2 separate regions of the Homo sapiens genome follow, and region 2 is linked to region 1. Evidence: fine-mapped expression QTL. Tissue or cell type: substantia nigra. Region 1 holds a variant in brackets; the other region holds the start of a gene. All regions are shown on one strand. Distances are between the middles of the regions.

What was found. PIP is the estimated chance that this variant, and not a neighbour inherited with it, causes the effect.
Region 2: ACP6 starts here. The variant in region 1 is fine-mapped to the expression of ACP6 in substantia nigra (GTEx, PIP above 0.99).

The regions. Positions count from the first base shown.
Region 1 is chr1:146,919,321-146,927,377 of GRCh38, forward strand. No RefSeq gene overlaps it. Among named protein-coding and RNA genes, the nearest start is that of NBPF12, 15 kb to the right of the region's middle. The variant C/G (reference allele first, on the strand shown) is at 3,429.
Region 2 is chr1:147,666,711-147,674,767 of GRCh38, forward strand. ACP6 (acid phosphatase 6, lysophosphatidic) reads right to left here and starts at 3,814. Exons shown (of 10, transcript NM_016361.5): 1 at 3,120-3,814. The coding sequence starts at 3,338. RefSeq lists enhancers at 2,662-3,605, 2,817-2,876, 3,517-3,766, 4,207-4,276.

The DNA.
Region 1 (8,057 bases):
CTTCTTTGTGGCTGCCTTTTTTCTTTCTTTTGATATATGAACTAGGCTTTCTTTGTTCTTTTTCCTCTTATGATGATTGGAGTGTTTGTATTTACATAAAATTTTAATTAACATACATAATCCCACATTTCTCGAATCGTGCCAAGAATGAAACAATCTCTTGACTTCTTACTTTGTTAAATAATAAAATTAGCATATATCAGCTTTTTTAAAAATTATCTGTGCTCATAAAAAATAATTTCATTTTCAGGTATTTGCCATAGGACAACCCTGAGATCTTTGCTTAATTTCAGGAGCTAGCCAATAGTGCTACAATTATAGAAAATGTAGCTAGAAAATTTTAGATCCTCAATAGCAACCCTTCCAAATGCATTATTACAGTAATAAAGCCACTGAAGCCTTGAATAGTTTAAGACTTGTTGTAGGTCCCAAAACTAGCAAGTGGCAGGATTAGACCTAGAACTCAGATCTCCTGCCCAAACAGTACTCTTTCTACTGTATTATATATTTTATGAGCGACAGTTGAGACAGTGAACAAGCTTAAGTTTATCTGGGCTTAGGGAAGATGGGGATAGACGAAGAGCCCTCTGAACATTAGAGAAAGGAATGATGGAGGAAGTCAGGAGTATTTGATTTTGAAAAGGAGATGATATGTGGCTTATGACTTCAAAGGAAATAAATATAACACAAAACACAAACTTTTCTTGCCTCCCTCTGTCACCTCAGAAGGGGTTTGGTGTTGGTGAAGAGATACTGTAATGTGATAATGAGTCTAAGAAGAGGACTTAGGTTGAGTCTATTTGGGTTATTTGGCTGGTCCTGTGCTCTGGATTTTCCTTCTGTTCACTTTTATTGAGTTTTACTAAGAAGCCATCTGGTAAAATATTTTAGACTTAGGTTGATATTTAACATATAGGGCAGGCTGGTTTAAGTGAATACCCAGCCAACAAATAATAAGATAAGAAAATAACCCAAACAGCATCATATTTTATTGTTTCCTGATTGAAATCAAGATGCTGGTTAGTTATCTTTTAGTCTAAAAATGTAATTTTGGAGGAACATCAGCTCAGAAAAGCTCCAGCATAAGGAAATAGGTCAGCTTTTCTTCCAACATCAAGGATTTCCAAATTCAGCCCAGAAGACTTAATAAAATGTACCTAAGGGAAGCAGAAGACAGTGAAACTGGAGTTCAGCTTCCATGAACATGGATACACCCTTTGATCCCTATGTTTCCTATGACCCTCTGGGCAGAGCAATCAGGCAGCTAGTCATCTATGTAGGATTCAGTTTGTCATTAAGCTTTTTTCTTAACAGTACATAATAAACACCTGATGAAGTTTTGAGATTAGATCTCGAAGAATGCCTGATCCTTGTGATTTCTGAAGCTTATATGGGAGGGTGTCCAGGTGTTTTTAAGGACTATATTGCTCTCATCCATTTCACCCCTTTCCTCACATGTCTTTTTCTGCCAAGGAGTTGAGTGTGGTTGTAGATTATAATTTAATAATTGTCAAACATTCTGTAGACAGAGTTGTTAGCTCCATTTTGAAAATAGCACCTGAAAAATAATTACTGAGGTTCACACACAGAATTTCTCTTTAAATTGGCAAATGATTTTTGTGCATTTACTTGCTGGCTTGCATAATCCTTAAGTTTTAGAAATGTTGACACTGGACTGTGCCTACATAACCTTCAGCCCTTTACACATGGTATCATTGGTCCTTTGATACATACATGTTTACTATGATGGTCTGGGTGATATTCATGCTTTAATGCTTTAAAATATGACCCATTCCTTTCTGACTGGTGGCATCCCTTCTACACTGACTTCAGGTGGGTTTGACAGTGGTAAATAGCTATAACTCATTTCTTCATATAGATATATTACTGTTTTTGTCTTTGGACTCTCTTCAATACATTTTGCCCCTCATGTTCAATTTTATTACCTGTTTAGGTATCATGTCATGATCCCAGCTCACTAAATCTATCTACTAGAATACAAGTTTGGTGTTCATGTACTGATCATGTATTTGGGTCTTATTGATCATGCTTTTTCTCGACTTTGGGTGATTCTCAAGTTGAATGTAATTATCCATACTAGGAATGCCACTAATAAGTAGGTTAATTCTACTGCTTTCTAGAGTTTTACTCCAGTTTTAAAATTGATGCCATCAGGACAGCATTCCCTTTTCTTTTCTTTCCTTCTTTTTTTTTTTTTTTTTTTTTTTTTTTTTTTTTTTTGAGACGGAGTCTTGCTCTGTCGCCCAGGCTGGAGTGCAGTGGCGCGATCTCCGCTCACTGCAAGATCCGCCTCCCGGGTTCACGCCATTCTCCTGCCTCAGCCTCCCGAGTAGCTGGGACTACAGGTGCCCGCCACCACGCCCGGCTAATTTTTTGTATTTTTAGTAGAGAAGGGGTTTCACCGTGTTAGCCAAGATGGTCTCGATCTCCTGACCTCGTGATCCTCCCGCCTCGGCCTCCCAAAGTGCTGGGATTACAGGCCTGAGCCACCGCCCCTGGCAGCATTCCCTTTTCTACAGGAAAATAATCTGTAAATTTTTTTTTCCACCTACACACCGTGTAATAATATATGGCCAAGAAATGCAAACTTGGTGCGTTACAGCTCTGCCTTATCAATGAACTTCCTCCATGGAACAGAGGTCGTGAGGCAGGCTTCGGTCATCCTCGTGGTTTCAGGGCATGGTTATTTTGCCAAACCCGCAAAGTGGTCTGAAGCAGTGATTACCAGGCCTAACTTCTCTCCTGAAGAAGCTGGGAAGTGTTCACAAAATATAGATCCTCCAGCTTCAACCTGATTAACCAAGTCAGATTCTGAAGGTTCCCAAAATCTGAGCTTTGAAACAGCTCTTTAAGCAACAACGATGTTGTTGGATAGTGAGAAAAACTACTGCTCTAGAGGCTCTTGAATTCTGCGTGTGCATATGTGCATATGTGTCGCAGGCACTAAATAGTAACAACTTAGAATCAGAAGATACCCTTCAAGCTCATGTCTCTCTTCATGGAAACGAAGTAGAGGTATTTGTAGGTTAAGGGACATGTCTAAGTGCACATAGCTAGTCAGTGGAGAATTGTGAAAAGCAAAGGAAAACAAAAGCCAAGTGTCCTGATTCTTAGTCCAGACTCATTTTCTCGAAATTAAGCTATCTTTGATATTTTCTTAAAGTGCTACCATTTATAAATTCAATAATTTTCCCAAGAGAGATAAGTTACATATAAGTTAAATGTCTTTTTCTCCTGAGCATTAGAGCATAAAATAGAATTTGAAAAGCAATAGGTTAACTCAACAATACAGCCTCACCACATTAGTAGCTGACACATGTTAACTGATTATTGAAAAAGTCATTTGTGGCACAGGTTGACATAAGCTAGTGTATTGAGAGAGGCCAAATAACGGTGTGTAACTAACA[C/G]AGGTTTTGGAATCTTAGGCCTGGGATCAAATCCTGACTTAACTATGTGATTCTAGGCAATCCTAGGCCTCAGTTTATGTATCTGTAAAATGGGTATAATATTTTCCTTTTATGTTTATAGTTAGGTTAAATGAAACATGAATACATGAATGGTGCCTGGCACATAGTAACTACTAATAATTAATCTCTTGTGCTTATTAAATGCCAGCCACTTGACAGATTATTAAAACTCACACCAACCCCACAAGTGAGTGTTGTAATTATTCCCATCTTAAAATGAAAACTTGACACTCAGCTATGTTCAGTAACCTGCCTGGGGTCATGGAGGTATTTGGAAATTGAGACTGGAGCTCTGCCTATCTTAAATTTCTCAGATTCTCCTCTCTTATGCTGTCTTTCAATAAATGACAGCTGTCATTATTGCCCTCATCCTCACCCAGAACCCAGTATAATTCAGTGGCCAGGCACATGGCTCAGGTTTGAAGTCCAAGGAGCTGGATGTTTCTTTCCTTTCAATAAATGACAGACATGTGACCTTGAGTGGGCTCCTCAATTTCCCTATTCCTTGGTTTCCTCATTTGTAGGATGAGGAGGATAATCTAGTTTTAGGGTTGTTTTGAGGATACCTGGTAAGCTCTCAATACTTCTGCTGCTTTTTATGTACTTAGTCAGTCCAACATGCTAAATAAGAATGAATTCTGGGTCTTGTCTTGCCCATGTTTTCGAAGCTTCTACTAAAAGTTTTTGTTTTTTAGCACTTTCCCTGAATCTCAGGTGTGAGTGCAGTAAAGGTGTTGGCTGAAGGGGGATGGAAACAAACGTTAATTACACCTTCAAGATTTCTCCAGTCAGAGTTTGGTCCTTCTTCTGGTAGGTGGTAAACTCTCTTCAGTTATATGGCCCTGAAAATCCTTGAAGCTCCATATATTGAAGGGATAATGGGCCAATATGTGAACAGCATCTCACCACTCATCTTGTGATGTGCTTGGCAAACAAGCTCACAGCGACAGGGGCTCAGGATTTTCGGAATTCTATCTGCTCTGCAGATTGGAGCCCGACTCCAAAGAGGCATTGATAGGGGGAGCTGATGCAGAGATGACTGCGTGACATGATAGCCGAGATACTGGACAATTCACTGTGTACTGTCCGTTTAAATGAAAGGTTAGAGTTAAGAGCAGACACTGCCAGTGCTACCAAGGGATAATTTTTTGTATGCACGTGTGCTCATGTGTTTATATGCTTTTAGCTTTCTTTTTGATAGTAAATATAGGAAAAGACCTTTCAAAGACTATACATGCTAAGTTTCTGAGAGGGAAGAACTATCATTAAAAGCATAAAACATCACATTATATTTGAGTTCAGTAACCTGAAGTTCAGCAAGTTTTCCACAGTCTCAGGTTTCCTAACAAGAAACAATGCACGTGTCTACTTCTGTACTTACATAACACTTTATTCTGTGCTACAGAATAAAGTATTTTAACACCCCTTTATCTCTCTCCTTTATGCACAGTGTGCATAAAGATGAGAACATCATGAACCAAGATGAGGCAGAATGACAGCACAGGGGTGGTTTCCATTTCAAGCTAGCTGTTTTCTGCATCCTCCCACCTCCTTCAAGAGTTGCATGCTTGATTGAATTAACTAATACCAGTTGTGCTTTACATATTTGAGTTAAAATATACGTGTTACATGTCAACATTGTGCTAAAATGTATTATTGATTTTTTTATTAACAAGCACTGCTTTAATTTAGTACTGAAGAAAGTCTATGTTTATTGGACAGCAATTTTATACCTGTGTATGAATACCTGAGTATGTAGAAGAATCAGATATGTGATTAGCTAAACTTCCAAAGTTGATAAAAACTAGGTGATTATTTAAATTGCACAAAACCCTGTATTTTACTTAAATTTCTATAAAAGTAATAATGTCTTACATTTGCTTAGTGAGAAATGCTTTGCAGATGCCTTTGACATATATTATCTCCTTTGTTCCTCTCAAAATTCTTATGAACTAAGGAGAGAGTGACTATTGTCTGCATGTTTTATGGATAAGAAAAAGAGAAAGCATCCTTAGCACATTTGAAATGTATTACCTTTACAAAAAGGTAACTCATCATCACCTCTTTAGAAAGCACAATTCAATGTGGAAAGTAGGCCTACCTCTGTTTACTCTATGCATGTATAGTTAGTGTCCTGGTTATCTCTTGCTATGTAACAGATTATCCTAAAACTTACTGGCTTAAAACATCATTTTATTATGTCTCACTATTTTTTTGGTCAATAGTTTGAATAGGGCTCAGCTGGGTGATTCCTTTGTTCCATGTGGAGTCAGCAGAGATAACTTGATGATACCCAGCTGCCAAATGAGCTGGTCTGGAGATTCCAAGATGGCTTCATTTACAAATTTAGTGATGGGGATGGCTGAAAAGCTGGTCTTGGCTGGGACTGGCAACTAGAGTGCCTACATGTAGCCTTTCCAACATGATATTAGGGTAGTCAGGGACTCAGTGTTCCAAGAGAACTTAAGTGGAAGTTGTTGGTTCTTAAGGCCTGGATCCAACAACTGGCCCAGCATCACTGCTGCCGTTTTCTGTTGATCAAAGCAAGTCATGGAGCCCACCCAGATTTGAGGGGAGGGAATATCTGCCCTACCTCTTAATGGAAGGGTATCAGAGAATTTGTAGCAACCTTTAATCTGTCACAGTGCACATTTTGGCCATTGATTATGTTCCTTGCCTATGGGAAAATACATTCACCCTTTCTAAAACCCCTAGACTCTCAACTCCTGATGGCATCAGAACACAGGCAGCATCAAGATCAGGCTCAAGATGCAGGATTTTATCATCCAAATCAGGCCCACATATGGATGAAACCCTTCAGGTATGTTTCTTCAAGTATGGTTCCTCTCGACCTGTGGACTAAAGAAACACATTATTTGCTCCTCCATCCCCAATACACAATGTCGAGATGAAGGTAAGAAAAATGCAGTTGGCATTCTCATTCAAAAATAGAATGAAAAGCAAAGAGCAGTCCCTAGTCTGTAGTATTTCTGAAATCTTACTGGTCACATGTCCACATTCTTTTATTACATCTCAGTCCTGCTTCCTAGGAATTACATAGTAATATGACAAAATAATATAACTAATTATTTAACTACAATAAACATTTCATTTCTAAGCTCACCTTTTTCTATACAGTATTATACATGCATAAAACAAATCATTTGGCACTTCTGGCATTCCTATCAGAGATCCAAACCCAGCCAAATCCATCAGTTCATTAGGTATATATTCTATTGTCTAGATCACAACAGGCAACAGTATTGTCAAAATTTCTGCCACTTCATAACCAGGGTCACTTTTTCTCCAGCCTCCAATAGTAATTCCTGTACTATCTTCCTCTAAGTATTCACTAGAAGTCTCCTTCAGGTTTTTCTATTCTCATTAACAGTGTCCTCAAGATCTTTGCAGCGTTTGCTCATTGTCTGGTTCCAAAACCATGGCCACATGTTTTAGATAGTTATGGCAGCACTCCACTTCCAGGTATCAAATTCTGTTCTTATTATCTACTGCAGCATAGCAAATTGCTCCAAAACTTAGTGGCTAAAAATAACAATCATTTTATTATATCAGGACCTTGTTGCTTGGGCATTTGGGCATGCCTCTGCTGGGTGATTCTTCCGCTCCATTTCAAATTGACTGAGGACACTCAGTGGTTTTCAGCTGGTGGGTCGGCTTGTCAGGAGGGTCAGGATGGCTTTCCTCACATGACTGCCACTGGCTAGAAAGTGGGGCTCAGCTGGGCTTGTTGTCTGGAGTGTCTACACATGGCCTCTCTAGTAGGGTGGCTTTAGGGTAGTAGAACTTCTTACATAGTGACTAAGTGTTTCCAGAGAGAGTGTTCCAAGAGACAGAAAGTGAAAGCTACCAGTTTCATAAGGTGTAGACTTGGAATCTGGGCTGGCTTCACTTTTGCTATGGCTTTACTGGCCAAACAGTCACAGAGACCACCCAGATTCAAGGCCATGGGATGTAGACCCTATTTCTCTGTGGGAACAGAGTGAAAAATTTTTAGTATGAAAGAAAAATAATGTTTAGTTTTTCATCTTGAATTGCTTACTAGTGCTTACAAGGCTGACTGACTCAATGAACTAATTCAGGTTTAGGAATTACACATTCGAGCTTCTGGTTCCATATCTCCCATTGCTTGGCTGTTCTTGAACTGAGGTAAATAACCTTTAGGCTTTAATTTATATCATAGGCAAAACGGAGATGATGATAACTGTTGGCACCTACTGGTTCAGGGAGATGTTGTGCCTCTTTTTATTTTTTTTTAAATCAGTATTTAAAAAGTATTCTCTAAAGTGCTCTAGGAAGTAGAATAATAAATTGCCGTGACAAATTGGACCATTACAAATTCACCACATATGTTTTTATTAAGATAGAAAATTGGGTCTCAATATTGTGTAACATCAACAGGGATACGTAGGAACTCTAGTACTCACAGAAGTCTCACACCCCACACACACCAACCTGTGCTATAGCATACGCTTCCTCTGTCTTTCATGTATGGCAGGCAATGTATGTTTTCTCACTGAATCTTTGCCACACTTTTTGGAGAGTTAGGTG
Region 2 (8,057 bases), 750 kb after region 1:
CCTTCGGAGGGAGACCCTGGCATGTGTATTTTTTAAAGCTTTCCAGTTGACTCCAATGTTCACCACGGTTAAGAACCATCGATCCTGAAGAATGGGTGGACCTCATGTAATGCTTCTTGAATACCGCTTCTTTTAGCTGAGTTTTGGAAAGGTACTAAGCAATAAAAGATTCTTACATTATGCTTCCCAGCTCATCTATATTGTCAAATAAATAGGGACCCAAATGTCTTAATCAACAGTGAAGCTGGGGTAGGTTGGACTTTATTTTATAAAAACTGAGGAATCTCCCTGGGTGGAGGCCATCTTGACACCCAGGGGAGTTGAGGGAAGCCTGGAAGCAGTGCCAAATCTTTTCTTTTGATAGTGCATTTGGATCTGCTCTAATGATCAGGAAAAAAAATGGCCAATCAAGTTCTATATTTTTATTTCCAAAGCACAATCTTTTAGCAAAACAGGTTAAACCAACAGCCATTCAAGCCATAAGAAAACAACCCAATAAAACACTAGTTTTTTGTTTTTGTTTTTGAGATGGAGTCTTGCTCTATCACCCAGGGTAGAGTGCAGTGACCCAATCTTGGCTCACTGCAACCTCCGCCTCCCGGGTTCAAGCAATTCTCCTGCCTCAGCCTCCCGAGTAGCTGGGATTACAGGCGCCCACCACCACACCGGGCTAATTTTTGTATTTTTAGTAGAGATGGGGTTTCACCATTTTGGCCGGGCTGATCTCGAACTCCTGACCTCTTGATCCACCTGCCTCAGCCTCCCAAAGTGCTGGGATTACAGGCATGAGCCACCACACCCAGCCAAAACATCTAGTTTTAAATCATGCTACTTTCTGAGAATTTGTGAGATGGCTGAATGAAGTGACTTGTCACATATATTAATCTATAAACCAGTCAGAAATCAGGAAACATGTACCAAAGACAAAAAATTTTTGCCAGGCAGTCCCTTCTGACTATAATTAATAGCAGAACCAAGAAGATTAAAAAATCCCAATAACGGCCGGGTGCTGGCTCACGCCTGTAATCCCAGCACTTTGGGAGACTTGAAGCAGGCGGATCATGAGATCAAGATATCGAGACCATCCTGGCCAACATGATGAAACCTCGTCTCTAGTAAAAATACAAAAATTAGTCGGGCCTGGTGGTGTGCACCTATAGTCTCAGCTACTCGGGAGGCTGAGGCAAGAGAATTGCTTAAACCCGAGAGGCGGAGGTTGCGGTGAGCCGAGATCGCGTCACTGCACTCCAGCCTTGCAACAGAACAAGATTCTGTCTCAAAAAAAAAAATCCCAATAACAACCTCTATCAAATTGGATCTTGAAATGAACACTGGACAGAGACTATCCAGAAACAAGTTTTAAGAGGCTAATATTTGCTCATAGCCTAAATTGAAAGAGAGTTGGTTCACCCCTGATTTTCATGCACACAACTTTATACTAGAGAGCCGAAGACGTTTAAAGCATCTGTCTAAAGTCTGGAGAATATGAGCAGAAAGGAGAGGTAATATGCCTTCTCTAATTGCAAAGTCAGGCCATGGATTCAGATGCTATTTTGTGGCTACACAGATTGAAGATGAATGAAGCTGGTATCCTAAGCTACAACGGACCTTTCAACCATAAAGGCAGAAGATATCCATCACACACCCACTCTCCCTTAGGGATAAAGCCCTAAAAGAATCTAAATCTTTTCCTAGTGCCTTCAGGATATATATATATATATATATGGTACATACTAGGTCTAGGCCTACACATTCAAAGTTTTACTCTCCATTACCACTGATAATTTTTTGTCTTCTACGTGAATATAATATATATTCCTACATGTGATTCCCCAGTCCTTCTGTACCAAGAATAAATAGAGAAGAATTGGGGGAAGGGGAGCATCAGAGATGGGCTGTATACAAAATCATAAGGAAAATTTAGTGATCTAATATAAAAAGGCAAAGTAAGAGACTGAAAAAAAAATCAAAGAATCAAAATGAAAGAAGAAATCCCGGTTCCAGAGAGCAAGTGGTAAAGCCAGAGTAAGGCTAACTAGAAACCTGGTAATAGAATTAAGTGCCTTCCAAATGTATTTATTTATGTGGAAAATGCTTTAGAAGTTTAATTTCATGTGCGGCCAACCTTGAAAAATGGGTTTCCAGTTGTACAATGTAAAGACACAATCCTGAAGGTTTCTAGAAAGCAACTGTTATTATGAAGAGTATACCTAACATCAATTTTGGACAATCTTTTCGACCTCCTCCAACATCAACCTGGAAGACCAACGATACAAAAGCACTCCACAGGTGTAATACCTGGGAGTTTGGGGATTTCAGGTTGCCTGTTCCTCTTCACTAGGCCTTTCTGCTATAAAAAGTCACATCCAGGAAAGATAATCATTTTTTTTTAAACTATTTGTGCTTTAGTCATAATTATCCTGACAAAACCAGACAGATTTTTAAAACATTACTGCCACAGACTAGCCCATTTTAAATTTGTTCCGACCTCAGATCCCTCCCACTATAGGTTTAGTAACCTTAAATAGAAAAGGAGAACCCTAGAATACAACACTTGTTACAAAAAAAAACTTCAGGAGATCTCAAATGGCCTCCAGCAAACCCTGAGAAAAAGCAGTTATAAAGTTTGTTTCCAAAGGCAACGACCTCTTATCCACTGTAATCTCAGTTAAGAGTGGTTCCTATCACTAAAGTCCCTTCAGCCCTTCAGCTCTGACAAACCACCTTCAAAATGGTCACACAGAAGTGCACTGCACCCTTGTATTCAAGTTCACCTAGACCCTTAATAGAAATGCTGACCTGGGGCACTACTCCACACCTGCTGAATCAGAATCTGCAACGTAGCAGGATCCCCAGGCGACTCCCATGCGTCTTAAGCAGCGCTTACTGATGGCTGCGCCATCAGGGCAAAACTGGAAGTTCCGGGGCTGTCCTAACCCCAGCAGGTCCTTTGCTCAAGAGCCTGGGGAGTCACTGGCTACTGCTGTTTTCCCTTCTTCTGGACCCAACCCGAGCCCCGCTCCGCGCGAGTAAAGCTCTGAAGATGTGTGTCAGGGCGAGACTCCTGGCCTGGCACACGGTCCTCGCCCCACCAGCCCCAGCCCGGGCCGACCTCTCACCTGCTCCTCCAGCGGGAGCGGCTTGAGAGGACTCCGAGCCCCGTGTCGAAACACGACCTGCACCATTTTCAACTTCAGCAGGCTGCGGTCGACCGGACACTGGCCATCGGCCTCCTGCAGCTCGGCCAGGGCCACCCGCCGCTGGTGCAGGCAGTACGCCAGCGAGGTCAGGACGCCCACTGGGGTCCACAAGCGCATGCTGAACACACCAGTGATCATGGTGGTAGGCCCTCGCTGCCCTCCGGGTTGAGGCTGCAGGAGGCAAACACAAGTCTTCTGCGGGCGCCGGGGCTCAGCGGGCGCCCCCAAGTCCGCGGGAACCTGCGGATGCGTACATCCAGCCCTTCAGCAAGCAGGGACCGCTGTGCCTCCCGGCCCTGAGGGAGACCCCGAGTGGGAACGGGGGAGAGAACAAGAGGTGGCAGCAGCGAAGAGTCCCTGGGAGTTTTAACCCGGGTCGGGGTTGGTCGCTCCTGCTGCACACCGGGCCGGGGGAGATCGGATCCTTATCTTTTGCCCGACGAGGAACATTAAACTTGTATTTCAAGTTTGGCCTCCAGCACTCTTGAAGGAACAGGAGCCGGCCCTGAGTTCCCTGGCGGCAGCGGCTCCACCAGCAAGGACTACTCGATTCCACTTTTCTATAAGCAAGCTCCTACCCACCTCCTCACCTACTCAGGGACCCGTCCCAAGTGGACCCGCGCACAGGAGCACGGGAAAACGAGTCCTGTGGTGACACCTCGCCTGGAGACTCAGAGCTGCGGAAACTACAACTCCCACAAGGCTGCGCGTACCGCGGCTCCCAAGAAGTGGCTTGTACCCGCCCCCCTCGCCTGCGGGCCTCGCCCCTCCGGCCCAGCCAGCCGTTTTCCAGGCGTGGATGGCCCACGGACGTGCCTGGTCCGGCAGTGGAGTGGTAGTGAATCTGTCGGGCCATGGAGTTTGCCAGGCAGGAGGATCGCGAGCGCAGGAGTAGAACTGGGTGGTGGAGGGGAGTAGTTTGAGTCTAGTTTTGAATGTAGAAGACTTCCTTCCAGTCCTGGAAGCCTGGTTGCTGCAGCGAGGAGCTGAGACACCTGCCGAGTGATTGCCATTTGCGAAACACAGCACTAGGTGCTTTATATTTAGTCATTTACTACTCCCTTCTCTGTTTTTAAAAAAATTCTCAAGCTTAAGTCATTGTAATCATGTAGAACTTTCAGGTCACTGATGTGTTTACTTCCATCCAGAATACTTCTTGTGGAAAAAGCCAGGCCTTGCCTGTGGGTGTCCCAGTGATTAAGAACCTAAGAGGCGCCATGGCTCACGCCTGTAATCCCAGCACTTTGGGAGGCCGAGGCGGGTAGATCATGAGGTCAGGAGATCGAGACCATCCTGGCTAACACGGTGAAACCACGTCTCTACTAAAAATACAAAAAAAAAAAAAAAAAAAAATTAGCCAGGCGTGGTGGCGGGCACCTGTAGTCCCAGCTACTCAGGAGGCTGAGGCAGGAGAATGGCGTGAACCCGGGAGGCGGAGCTTGCAGTGAGCCGAGATCGCGCCACACGACTCCAGCTTGGGCAACAGCGCAAGACTCCGTCTACAAAAAAAAAACAAAAAAAAACCTAAGAACACAGAACAATGCCAGCCTTACCACCTGCTAGTCTGGTTTCTGTTGATATACAGGTATCCCAAGCCTGTGTTTCCAGATCTTTGCAACAGGACACAATCTGGGACCCACTATGTGTCTATCTCCAAAGATCAAACTGGGCCAGATGTAAAGACAACATACTTACAGAGCATGGCTCCTGGCCTGAGAACAAATTCTGTTCACCAAGCTGGAAGGTTCTGAGTGCTCCCCTCCCTGATGCAGGGAGGAGGGTCATTTTGGAACACTACATATTGTCACAATTTTCTCCCTAGCCCAGCCAAGGGACTCACTTTTCAGAGTCTTATTGTGTGTGCTGATGTGATTAAAAATCGAATACTGTTTGCTATGGACTCAGTTGTGTCCCCCGCCAAATTCGTACCCACTAAGTGACTGCATTTGGACATAGGACTTTTAGAAGGTGATTCTGTCAGAGGCATTTGAACCATAGTGACTCCATCTTGAATAGCGGCTGGGTAAAATGAGGCTGAGACCTACTGGGCTGCATTCCCAGGAGGTTAGGCATTCTCAGTCACAGGATGAGGGGGGAGGTCAGCAGGACTGGTATCACAAGAAACCAGTCAAAAAGACCCTGCTGATAAAACAGGAAGTGGTAAAGAAGCTGGCCAACACCAACCAAATGCAAGATGTTGATGGAAGTGACCTATGGTCAAACTCACTGCTCATTTTACGTTAATTATAATGCATTAGCATGCTAAAAGACACTCCCATCAGCACTATGACAATTTACGAATGTCGGGGCCAGCAGTTACCCTATATGGCCTAAAGTGGGGAGGAACCCTCAGTTCCAGGAAATCCCACTCCTTTCCCAGAAAATTCATGAATAATCCACCCCTTGTTTGGCATATAATTAAGAAATAACCATAAGTATTTTCAGTTGAGCAGCCCATGCCCCTGCTCTGTCTATGGAGTAGCCATTCTTTTGTTTCTCTTTTTCTCTAATAAACTTGCTTTCACTTTATGGACTCGCCCCAAATTCTTTCTTGCCCGAGGTCCAAGAACTCTCTCTTGGAGTCTGGATCAGGACCCCTTTCCAGTAGCAATTTTGGTTAAGTGAAGATATAAATGTGAGGTCCTAATCCAGTAGGATTGATGGCTTTATAAGAAGAGAAAGAAGGATCTCTCTCTCCACACAGGAGATCTGATGGTTTTATAAGTTTTTGGAAATTCCTCCTTCTTTCTCCTCTCTGGTCTGCCAACTTGTGAAAAAGGTGCCTGCTTCCCCTTCTGCCATGATTATAAGTTTCCTGAGGCCTCCCCCTGTCCTCAGCCATGCAGAACTGTGAGTAAATTTACTCCTTTGTTTATAAATTGTAGTATCTTTATAGCAGTGTGAAAACGGACTAATACAGCAATGGTCCTGTCAGGGCTCATGTGTCCTGTTGGAGGGGGAGTGTGGGGAAGTGTGGGGAACAACTTAGCAGCAGATCTCCAAAAGAAACCAGAGTGAGGGTGGAAAATAGCTGATTTCATGTGGTTGTTAAAAGCACTGTTTGTCAACACATGTGAGACAAACCATGGGGAGTCCAGATGTATTTTGTGTGTGATAGTAGTGGCAGTGAGCTGCAATTTAAAAGAGGCTGGGCCGGGCGCGGTGGCTCACGCCTGTAATCCCAGCACTTTGGGAGGCTAAAGCAGGCAGATCACCTGAGGTCAGGAGTTTGAAACCATCCTGGGCAACATGGTGAAACGCTGTCTCTACCAAAAATACAAAAATTAGCCGGGTGTGGTGGCACACATCTGTAATCCCAGCTACTCGAGAGGCTGAGGCAGGAGAATCGCTTGAACCTGGGGGCAGAGGTTGTAGTGAGCCGAGATTGCACCACTGCCCTCCAGCCTGGGCGGCAAAGTGAGATTCCATCTCAAAAAAAAAAAAAAAAAAAAAAAGAGAGAGAGAGAGAGAGAGAGAAAGAGAGAGACTGGAAGTCCTGACCCAGGGTAGGACCGTGTGGGTGGGGGTGTTAGGGTGGTTGCAGGAAGCAGGGGAACACTGAGTAGCTGTTATTTTGACCCTGGTTTTAAACTACCAGGCAGGGATGGCTCGGGAAATAAGCCCTTTCCCAGCCAAATTGTCTTCAGAGGATTGCATTTAATATTATGTAAAAACTCAGTTTTAATAATGAGATTAGATAAGAAACAACCACATTCACATTTTTTTCCCCAGTGGTGAGCACAGTGCCTGGCTTGTAGTAAGTACTCCATAAATACTTGCCAAATGAAATTATAGGATATATCATAGGAATGTTGTTGAGCCATTGCTCATTACATCATTTATTGCTTCCTTTATAAATCTCCTCCTGAGAAATTTGGTTTAGAGTGTTAGAATTAGAACAAGCATTAAGAAGTATGAAGATTACTTTTCCTTCAATTTTGTCTTGGTTGTCAGGAAGCTTGGTGCCTAATTTTCAAACTTACCTATAGAAAATATTTAGAATCTAGTGGCCAGTATAACTATGATCTTTCCCTCCAGAGTATTACTCTGGATTGGATGGGAGCAAAACTGGAGAAAGGACCGTTAGGAGGCTGTTGCAGCAATCCAGCTATGAAACATGTAAGAGGTAGTTAACAAGTGAGAAGGAGGAAGGAGTCAAGGATGACTACTCTACGTTTCTGGCTTGGACAACCTGCAGATGATGCCATGCACCTGGGAAGGAGGTTAAGCAGAAATGACCAAGTTAATTTTGAATATGTAGATCATAAGGTACTTAGGTATCAAGGAAGCCAAGAGAAAAAAGGTTTTTTTAAAAAAGAGAATGGACAATAGTGTCAAATGGAACTGAGAAGCCAAGTAATGTAAGGTCCAGTGTCCAATGGATTTAACAACAAAGTAATCTTCTGTTAGTTAAGTGAGAGCAGTCTCAGTGAAATAGTGGAATCCTAATCCAATAATGGGGCAGAAATGGAATGCAAGTGGGAAGTAAGTGTAGACATCTTTAAGAAGCTTAGCTGAGAAGAGGGAATGAAAAAATGCAGTAGCTGGAGGTGTTTGATTCATGAAATTAAGGGAGAATTGTCTTTTGAAGATGAGAGAAGCTTGTATATATGTTTAAATGTTGATAGAAATAAGTTTCCAGATAAGGAGAGACAGGATAATAGATCTGATTAAGTGCTTAGGAGGGCAGGATAAAATCAGAAATGAGCTTAAGTGGCATAATTAGCTTCAGAAAGAAAAAGTATGTATTTTCCATGTTTATAGGAGGGGAATAAGAAAGAATAGGCATGGGTGAAATACATTCATGGCATGGAGATTCATGGGGCTTTTTTCTTTGTTTTTTTTTTTTTCTGCAAA